Homo sapiens: one gene and its partners. The protein of the gene in region 3 purifies or fractionates together with the protein of the main gene of each other region. This does not show direct contact. Each region holds a gene or a part of one and is shown on either strand. Other genes may lie near its edges. The genes, in order: NPEPPS, STK38 and GBP1.

What was found.
Region 1: the proteins of GBP1 (region 3) and NPEPPS fractionate together in Homo sapiens (co-fractionation; one large-scale study listed by BioGRID). This does not show direct contact.
Region 2: the proteins of GBP1 (region 3) and STK38 fractionate together in Homo sapiens (co-fractionation; one large-scale study listed by BioGRID). This does not show direct contact.

The regions. Positions count from the first base shown.
Region 1 is NC_000017.11:47,537,452-47,541,107, reverse strand, and holds part of NPEPPS (puromycin-sensitive aminopeptidase), read right to left. Parts: intron 1-3,656. UniProt on the Homo sapiens protein: Aminopeptidase with broad substrate specificity for several peptides. Involved in proteolytic events essential for cell growth and viability. May act as regulator of neuropeptide activity.
Region 2 is NC_000006.12:36,516,447-36,520,102, forward strand, and holds part of STK38 (serine/threonine-protein kinase 38), read right to left. Parts: intron 1,395-3,656; coding exon 1,271-1,394; intron 1-1,270. UniProt on the Homo sapiens protein: Serine/threonine-protein kinase that acts as a negative regulator of MAP3K1/2 signaling. Converts MAP3K2 from its phosphorylated form to its non-phosphorylated form and inhibits autophosphorylation of MAP3K2.
Region 3 is NC_000001.11:89,058,613-89,062,268, forward strand, and holds part of GBP1 (guanylate-binding protein 1), read right to left. Parts: intron 1,713-3,656; coding exon 1,585-1,712; intron 815-1,584; coding exon 705-814; intron 432-704; coding exon 229-431; intron 1-228.

The DNA of each region.
Region 1 (3,656 bases), on a different chromosome or scaffold from region 3:
AGAAAGTATTTGTGCATTTTGGAAAGGCACCATGCACAACATCCAATTACAAGTACCTTCCAACTCCTCCTGTGTTTAAGGGAAACTCATCTATTTATACTAATGAATTAAGCTGTTTCTTGAATTGTTACTAATTTTTTTTTTCCAGGATACTACCATTTCTGGAAGGGTGGGAGGGAGGAACCAAAGGAACAAAGGTACTTATCTTAAAAATAGAAATCCATTCACATTTTAAAAATTGGTCAGCATCTTGTCTTATATTAGAGATGCACTTATTTAAAAAGTTGACCAATAATGGGATAATCTATGTAAAGTCTCTGTTTTAGCACTTAGTGCTTCATATGTAGTCATCACTTAATAGATGTTAAGACATACACATACACACACACAGGTTAAATTGTGCTCTCATATCATCTAACAGCATTCACCTAACAGTTTATAAAGCTTCTGATCAGAATGATATGAAGTTTAAAAACTATGTATTGTATTATATGGCACTTTGGATATCAGCACATGTGTACTACCCCAAGAAGGTAATTTAAAATATCTGTTTGGACATAAGTGTATGTGCTGACTACAACGCAGTATAACACTGCTCATTGTGATGCTGCTCTTCCAAACAGTAGTGCTGACCTGATGGTGTAGTACATGATTTCCCACCTTTGACACCTTCATGTTAGTAAATATTAGCTGTGTGTTCCACTATCAAAAAAACAGGTAATAATTCAAAGAAATTTCAGCATTAAAATCTTCAGTTTCCCAGTTTAAAACACAAGTGAAACAAGGTTGGCATATAAAAGTGCACTGATAACAAGCTCATTTTCAATTTTTCTACTTGATGTTATTAAAGGATAGAATGTTAGTGTATCCTTGCTTTGTTTCAAACCCAGGATTAAGTCTTCTTGGCCTCCTATATAGACTGCACTTCAACTGAGCCAAATACTAAGTAAGGGCTGTACCAAAGAGGCAGCTTGACGCCTGGTAACAACTTTACAATGGAAGTTTCCTATGAGATAGGGAGGCAGAAATCGGAGATAACATTTTCCTGAATGAGTCTTTACTACAGTCACTCAGGAACATATCTTACATGTAAGATAGTAAGACTCAAGAGGGTTTTTTTCTGATTGTCAATGTCCTGAGATTTCAGTAAAAGAAAATCTCCAGTGTGACAATTCCAAATGCCAGTCTGAAGCCTGAGTCAATTTGCCTAATAAAACTGATTTCACCATTAAAATAGCAATAATTGTTGCCTTGGTGGAACAGTTCTATAATAGCTAAAGACAAGAAGAAGCAGATAATTAGTAAACTCAAGTTGAGCCAAGTTTTCTAACAAGAAACATTGAAAAGAGCCACTTGCAGAAGGTCAAAAATAATTACCATTAATGTAAAAATGCAAAAGGCACAGAATATTGGTATGTGATGTTTGTGGCTACTAATATGCAATTAAAGTTTTAAACTATACATAGGAATAAAAAGGAATAATACGCACCTACCTGAAGAAAGAAGTTACTTCTAGAGGCAGGGTGGGACGAGATGGAAATGGGCTTTAGTGATATCTGTGACATTTTATTCCCCCCCCAAAAAAAGCATGCACAGTCTGATGAAAATGGGGCAAAACGTTAACATCTGTTTAATCTCATAGTGTGTGACTTTCTTGTATTTCTAAAATATTTCCTAATTTAAAATAAAATTTTAAAGAGATTACAAGTGACCAAATAAACCAAGGACCACATACTTGTATGGTGTTCAAAACGAAATCACTAAAATCTAGAGAACTAATCTCAGTTAACAAAAGCCATCCGAAGGCTCAGATATTTCCCACTGACTCACATACAGATTAGAGTAAGATTTACTTCACAATAAGAGCAGGCTCATTTATGTGGCAAAGTTCGGAGAAGCTTCACAGATAATTTACTACTCAAGACCACATTTACCCAGGTTGTATCAGAGTATCAGTTGTATCTAGAACCAGGAGGCTAAAAAGAAAAAAGAAAAAAAAAAAAAAAAGGCCTAGATGAAAAGCCAAAATAGGTGATACAAAGTCCGTACAATAAAACGCATACCCTTTACTCAGAAGAGAATCCAACAAACTCTCACACAGCAATTGATTTTTTAGCCCAAACAAGCTTGTTTATCTGGCTACTAAGGCTTCTTCAGATGAAGTTCAGTAAAATACAAGAGGGAAGAAATTGCACAACAGGCAGCAACAAGGCACAATAAGCAGCAAGAAGAACATGAGAGTAAGGAAAACAAAACAACTTTAAAGAACAGATACAGGCTGGCCGGGTGCGGTGGCTCAGGCCTGTAATCCCAGCACTTTGGGAGGCCGAGGCGGGTGGATCACAAGGTCAGGAGTTCGAGACCAGCCTGGCCAATATGGTGAAACCCCTTCTCTACTAAAAATTCAAAAATTAGCCTGGCATGATGGCAGGTGCCTGTAGTCCCAGCTACTTGGGAGGATGAGGCAGGAGAATCGCTTAAACCCGGGAGGCGGAGGTTGCAGTGAGCTGAGATCACGCCACTGCACTCCGGCCTTGGCGACAGAGCAAGACTCTGTCTCCAAAAAAAAAAAAAAAAAAAAGAAAACAGATATGGACTAGGCGCGGTGGTTCATGCCTGTAATCCCAGCACTTTAGGAGGCAGAGGCAGGCGGATCACCTGAGGTCGGGTGTTTGAGACCAGCCTAGCTAACATGGCGAAACCTGGTCTCTAGAAAAATACAAAAATTAGCCAGGTGTGGTGGCATGCACCTGTAATCCTAGCTACTAGGGAGGCTGAGGCAGAAGAATCCCTTGAACTAGGGAAGTGGAGGTTGCAGTGAGCCGAGATCGCACCACTGCACACTCCAGCCTGGCCTAGGCAACAGAGTGAGACTCTGTCTCAAAAAAAAAAAAAAAAAAAAAAAGAACAGATATGGCTAGGCGCGGTGGCTCACACTTGTAATCCCAGCACTTTGGCAGGCGGAGGCAGGCAGATCACCTGAGGTCAGGAGTTCAAGACCAGCCTGGCCAACATGGTGAAACCCTGTCTCTACTAAAAATACAAAATTAGCCAGGCGTGGTGGTGCATGCCTGTAATCCCAGCTACTAGGGAGGCTGAAGCAGGAGAACTGCCTGAACCTGGGAGGCGGAGGTTGCAGTGAGCCGAGATTGTGCCACTGCACTCCAGCCTGGGCAACAGAGCGAAACTCCGTCTCAAAAAGAAAAAAAAAAGAAAAAAAAAAACAGATATGAAACTGATAAATTATAGTACATAGTTTGGGGTCAATGAGAGATGTTCAAAATAAAGTTCAGTATTTAAAAAAAACAATGAAACAAACCTACACTATGAGGAATTGCAAAGCATAAAAAGATAATGTATTTTAGAAATATTTCCATTCAGATTAGTCAACTTTTTTTTTTTTTTTAAAGACAGGGTCTCGCTGTGTCACCCCGGCTGGAGTGCAATGGCGTGATCTCAGCTCACCGCAACCTCCGCTCCTCCGCTTCCCGAGTTCAAGCAATTCTCCTGTCTCAGCTTCCCGAGTAGCTGGGATTACAGGCATGTGCCACCACGCCCGGCTAATTTTTGTATTTTTTTGTAGAGACGGGGTTTCACCATGTTGTCCAGGCTGGTCTCAAACTTCTGACCTCATGATCCACCCACCTCAGCCTCCC
Region 2 (3,656 bases), on a different chromosome or scaffold from region 3:
TTTAACAGAGCATCATGCTGCTTTTTCAGTTTCATTTCATTTAGAACATTATGTTTTGTATTATTGGAGAAAAGTAGCTATTTTTCCCTCAGGCAAAAATTAAACCATTTATTAAAGTGCTCTTTTTCAGTCCAATACTTAAAAAATATGATTTCCTAATCACTCCTGGCAGCCCTTCAATCTGGAGACCCACCAGACACATGGAGACAGTGCACTTGGGCTGCTACCCCAGTAAGGTAGCTATACGGCCTTAGTTCTGTGGCTCAGGAGAGCAGTCAATGGGGCCTCGCCTGTGCAAGTTTGCCCAGATGATTGGAGAGCTCAGGCCAGATGCTCTATGGCTCTGCAGGCCAGCTCCACCAAGTGCAAAGGGCAGGGTCCAGGAGACATGAGAAGCTACGGAAGATGGTACAGGTTGAGGCTTGAGGACACGTTAGGAGCTGGTAACCAAGTTGGCTCTTACTCTTATTTAAGAACTAGCATCTAAATGTTAAAAAAGTTTCTCCTCATTCTACCAGACTCTTTTCTAACATTAATCAACTGTTTATTTTTTATTAAATGTGTTTCTTTATTAAAAAGTATTGATGACCCTAAATCTAAGGGTTGTCACAAAATCAAAATATTATGCCACAATTATAGGAACAAAAAAGAAAAAAGTTCTCTCTCTTTTTTTTTCCCACCAGAGTTTGCTCAGAGTTCATCTGCTCACTGACAAACAGACTGCTTTCCTCAGAACAGATGGCATGTTCTGTTCTGGGTTTACTTTGGAGCTGTCTTAGGAGATGCTCATGCTGAGTTACATAAAACTTAAAATTTCAGAAATGAGAAATTTTTTCTGGCTACTAATATGGGTAACAAAAAATTCACTCCTTATTAATATGTTATACAAAAAGAAACAAAAATTTGGAGCAAAGGATGTTATAGCTTCAATGTTGTCACTTGGGTTATTGATCATATATGATTCCCATTGACAGGAGAGCAGGCAGAGCACCCTAATTTATTCCTATATATTTTAAAAAGAAGAAGAAAAGAAAGAAATGTCCATCTGAAATCATGTAAATGAATTAACAGGTTACTTTTATGGTACTAAGATTGTAGAAAGGCACCCCAGCACAAGACAGGTTACTGACTTCCTTTATAGACCTAAAAAAGGATATAGAAAGCAACTTTGTGAGCACATTTAAAAGTAGAAAGGAGGGTTAATCGTGATGTGAGAGAAAGAAACCACAGAACAAAAAGAAAAAATGACCTTTCATCGTCAAGTAATTACCTCCAGGCAGGAACTCCATGATTAGGTAGAGGTTTAGCTTATCCTGAAAACTATAGAACATTTTCACAACCCACAAACTGTCTGCCTCCACTAGAATGTCACGCTCCGCACGAATGTGGCCAACCTGGAGGTATATGCATTTGATTAATGACAAAGCTTGCTCTGCTTTATTAGATTGTATATTTGCTTAAACAATTTAAATACTGTGCTTAAATACTGTTTTGAGTATTTAATCGTGATGATATAAAAGATCCAATTTCTGCTTAGGCAAACCTACTAACTCAAAATTGACAACATTTGACTTCAAGGTATTCAGTGATGAAAACTTGAGTGATGAAAGGCTTTAAAAAATGGCAAAATGAATGGCTTTAATGCAAATAGCAACTTTAACACTGCTATAAACTGAATCTCTGATTAGTTAAAATTACTACTCTTTTGCATAGAGTTTTGTCTAATAATCTTTTATGATAAAAATAAGTCCCCAAAGTGAGACTCTCTTCCAAGTTCTTCCTCGGGTCTGCACTAGTATCTGCAACAACAGTGAGCTCACTGACAAATTCTAGAATGCTATGATACCACAGCATTTAGTTCACTGCTATGTGCTCAATCAATCCTTACTGAATTGAAATACAAGAACACCTATGAAAAGTTGTAGATTCAAATTAATGACATTTCCAATTTTATACTTTTACTGAAATACCTATAAAGGACCAAGTTGTAGAAAGTTTCAGAGAACCGGAATTATTTTGTTAAAGCAATGCTTTATTATCAAATTTACCTTATTTACTTTAAATGCAGAACAGTAATCAAACATCACTGCATATTATCAAATCCCCCCCACACACACTTTTTTTAAAACAAGATGGGGTCTCGCTCTGTCACTCCGGCTAGAGTGCAGTGGCGTGATCATAGCTCACTGAAGCCTCAAACTCCTGGTCTAAAGTGATCCTCCTGCCTCAGCCTCCTAAGTAGCTAGGATTATAGGTGTGTGCCACCATGCCTGGCCCCTCCCCTCTTTTTTAAGTGTCACAAGGTCTAAATTGGGTTGATTCAGATCTAAATTTATTAAGACTCAGTCCAATCCCTGAATAGTGGTTTTGGTCTTAACATATGCTACAGGTCTTGACTTTTTACAACATGTTCTGAAGTAAAACATGTACCAAGGTTCACAAATTGGCAAATTTAGTCCATGGCTGTTGGCAAATTTAGTCCATGGCTGTTGTTTGGTTTAATACAATGTTTGATATGATGCTTGTTTTATTGACATGTCTTTAGGGAGACAAGGCACTCTTCCATTACTCTTCCATTTCAACACCCTCTCCCCTGGTCTTATATCTAACTTGCTTCAGGCTTCTATGCTAACTCTTGGAGGCCCAGAGGCATTTGACTTTATGTATTTGAGTTTTCAGTATCTACTAAAATCATTCTTTGGGGAATTTTTTTAAAAGCTGCAACTGTACAGAAAACCTACATCTTTACATCTGTACTTATGGTATTGGGGTGGGAAAAAATGGACAATAAGGGTGAAAAGAAACAGTGCTATGAAACACAATGAAACCAAGTAAAGCATCTGCCTTTACTTGACCTTAATACAGAAGCAAAGCTTTTGGGAAACAGTAACATTGCTTGCTGCCCCACAGCCATGGCTAGGACCCAGTCACTACAAGACATTAATACAGTAGAAGGCAGCCTTCATCTGCCTGTCTCCCCTGGCTCCCATTAAGCTCCCTACCTACTGCAGGGAGCCAGAGAAAAGGAGAGGCACTACAATTACCACTTGTCACTCACCCTGGAGGACACAATGGTGCCCATAACATTTCCTGTTTGTCAAGGGGAAAGCTACCATGAGCACACCTTGCCTTTCTCTTGAGGCTGAAACAGTAGCAAGAAACCTCATGGTTTGAAAGTGGAGTTGGCTGAATATAGATTAAGGGAGGGAAGAGTCTGAGGTGCAATTTATACAAAAAGGTTCTCTTTCCCCTATTCCATAAATATTTAATAAGGTGGGGGGTGCTAGTTGCTATCCTGTGCCCTAAGAAAGCAGAAATAAAAGCCAGTTTTTTGTCCCATCAATAACTGTATACTGGCATCACAACTGAAGGTTTTCCTTTTGCACTGGAAGAGAAACATCAGAAGCTAGTTAGATGTCATGTCTTACCCTTTAAATTTTTCCAGGTAGCAAAAATTTCCACCACGTGGAGCAGAAAAATAACCTGAACTCTCAGTGGGTAGCTTTAATTCCTACCCAGTTTATTTAGTAAAAGCAAACAAAAAAACAATTTTGCCTCTGTACCTCTACTTTGTCAGCCCTACCCCAAAATGGTGATGAATTTGCACTGGTCTACTTCCATCTTTTATCTAGCACAAAACCAATGCATGCTTCTTC
Region 3 (3,656 bases):
CACAGCATACACAAAGGTGAAAGAACAAGAAACTTGTTCTAGAACAATGACAAATGTAATTTAAAATAACATCTATTAATTTGGATATTCAGCAAGTATTAATTTCTAGGAATAGCCAGCTGAAGACATAGAAAACTGCAAATGCTGGAAAACTAGCAATAGTAAACTGAAAAATGATAATTTCTTGTGTTTTCTCATCCTCATTTATCAGTTGAAGCTCTCTGTTACCTTTCTTCAGCTTCAGGGAGTATGTCAGGTACTCATCTGGTGTGAGGGGTTGTCCATCTGCTTCCAAGTCCAGGGAGAAATCTCTCAGTGTCCACACAAAGTCTGGGAAGAAGCTCACAAAGTCAGCTGAATCCTCAACCTCATTCTCATTCTCATCAGGTGAGGATTTTGATCGGATTCTATGTGTCAGCTCTGTCACATAGCTGAGTAGCTAACTAAGGAAATGTGACAAAATGAACAGGGACCTCATCCCATGTTAGTTCAACACATACCCAAACCTTCCATTTTCCTTTGCTCCTAACCTAAGTGTCAGTGTCAGTTCTAAAGTGGATACATGGGATCTCTCCTCTGTACTTGCATTATTTTTTGTTTTCTCCTTTTGAGCTTGATTCATCAGGATTCACAGTCAGGCAGCTGGTGTATGAATACAGGTGTCCCCTCTGACCTTGGTGCTGTTCTGGGTCACAAAAGGATACTACAGTTGGTCCATAGCCTGCTGGTTGATGGTTCCTATGCTATTGTACACGAAGGTGCTGCTCAGGAGGACGGCCAGGGCGAAGATCCAGGAGTCATTCTGGTTGTCACCCTGGAAGTCAAGACACACTGGAGTCAGGAGCAAGTTTCATCATCGCAGCACTTTTCAGAGTAACAGTAGTAAAACTATGTTCATATGTTAGAGGGTTTTTTTTTCTTTTCTTTTTTTTTTTTTTTTTTAACACTAATGACCTATTAAAGGAAGACAAATACAAAAATTATTCTCAGTAGGATGTGGCTTTTGGGTAGTTTTTCGACGAGTGTTTTTGGGTTACCATGATTCTTACTAGGTCTTCTAATGATCATCAACAGATAATTGTAAAATTAAAATTCAAGGTTGGTGGGCATTTTAAGGCCTGAGTACAATGTAAATTTAAAATTTTCTCTTCTTTTTTTCAATAACAGAATTCACATATAAGATTGGTACTATTAGTTGCTATTTTATTGAATAATTAATATACACCTGTAATGTATTATCTTATTAAATATTCAAAATAATACTATATGGCCAACATAGGTCTTTTCCATACATTTTAAAGATTAGAATGCTGAGGCGAAAATAAGTCAATTTTCTCAGGCTACTGAATTAGTGACAGAATTTAAATTTAAATACAAAGTCACATGGCTTTAGCACCCAAATTCTTAACTAAAGTTCTGTGCAGGATAAGACTTATGACACTGGGATTATTTGTGCTCCCTTTATGCATCTGTGTTAACCCACACATATTACAGCCTGTAGTTAATAGTTAATAAACAATTAACCGCTGCATAAAATATTCAGAGAGGAGGGGCTTACTCCACAACTGGATCCTTGAGTCTCACCTTCTCTACATCTCCCAGACCCTCGGTGTCCAGCAGAACTAGGATGTGGCCTGGCTTCTTGGGGTGGGGCACACACCACATCCAGATTCCTTTAGTGTGAGACTGCACCGTGGAGCCCAGAGAGAAGCCTGCAAGGGAGAGAGGAGACCAGCGATGGGGATTTAGTAACAGGCAGTTCTGGCAATTGAAGGAAAAAGTAGTATATTTAAGGTTAAGAGAGAGAACTGAAACAACAATCAGTATTCACCTTACGTACTTACAATCAAAGAAATAGGAAATTTGAATATCCAATGCATGGAAACATTCAGGAGGCTTTCATGATAAAAATAATCAACAAAGTAGAAATAGAAAGACAGCACCTCAACATAATAAATGCCATGTATTAAAAACCCACAGCTAACTTCACATTTAATGATGAAACGTCATAGCTTTTCCTATAACATCATGAACAAGAAAAGGATGCCTACTTTTGTCAATTGCATTCCACAGAACACTGCAAGTCCTATCCAGAGTAATTAGACAAGAGAAGCATAAAGGAGGCATCCTAATTGGTAATGAAAAAGTAAAATTATCTCTGTCTGCTGATGATAGTATCTAATTTGTAGAAAACATTAACTATCCCACAAAAAACTATTAGAACTATTAAAACAATTCATCAAAGTTGCAGCATGCAAAGTCAATATGGAGAAATCAGTTGCTAGTGTAAAAAATAGAAAAGGAAATTTTGGAAACAATCCAATTTAACAGCATCAAAAGAATAAACTACTTAGGAATCAGCTTAACCAAGCAGGTGGAAGACTTGTAGAGTGAAAACTTCAAACACCCTTTAAAGAAATTATAGATGACATAAGTTATTAGAAAGACATCCTGTGTTTATGGATTGGAAGACTTAATATTCTTAAGATGTCACTACTACCCAAAGTGATGTACAGGTTTGATATAATCCCTACCAACATTCCAATTACTTTGTATAAATAGAAAAATCCACCATAAATTTCATATGAAATTTCCAGAGATCCCCTAATTATAAAAATAAAAAGGAAGAGCAAAGTTGGAGTCTCACAGTTTCTGAGTTGTGAAACGTATTACAAAACCATGTGTGGTACTGGTATAAAGACTGACATATAAACCAATAGAATAGAAAAGACAGCCCATGAATAAACTCTGATATATATGGTCAAATGATTTCCAGTATGGGTGTCAAGATCATTTAATGAAGAAAGGAGAGTCTCTTTAACAAATGATGTTGAGGAAATGATATATCTCCTTAAAAAGTTGGGCTATTACCTTATAACTTACAAATATGAACTCAAAATGGATCAAAGAACCAAACATTAGAGTTGAAACTATAAAAGTTGTAGAAGAAAATAAAGGGTAAAAGTTTTATAATATTGGATTTGGAAATTATTTTTTGAATAAGAAACCAAAACTATAGACAATAAAAGAAAAAATAGATTAGTGGGACTTCAGCAAAATTTAAAACTTTTGTGTATTAACGGACACTATCAACAGAGTTAAAAAAGGCAACACACGGAATGTAAGAAAATGGTTTCTAAACATGTATATGATAAGGGATTGATATCTAGAAAATATAAAAAAATTTACAAAGCAACAGAAATAAACAACCAGATTAATAAATGAACAATGGACTTGAATAGACATTCTCCCAAAGAAGATATACAAGTGGCCAATAAGCACGTGAAAAGATGCTCAACATCACTAGTCATTACGGAAATCAAAATCAAAACCACAACGAGATACTACTTAACTTCCATTCGTATGGCCACTATAAAAAAAAAAAACCACTGAAAATAAAAAATGTTGGTGAGGATGTAGAGAAATTAGAACCCTTGTGCATTTCTGTTGAGAATGTAAAACGGTACAGTCACTGTGGAAAATGGTATAGTGATTTCTTAAAAAAAGTTAACATGCAATGACTGCATGAGCCAGCAATTCCCCTTCTGGGTATATTCCCAAAAGAAGTGAAAGCAGGGACTTGAACAGATATTCAGACACCCATGTTCCTATTAGCATTATTTATAATAGACAAAAGGTGGAAGAAATCCAAGTGT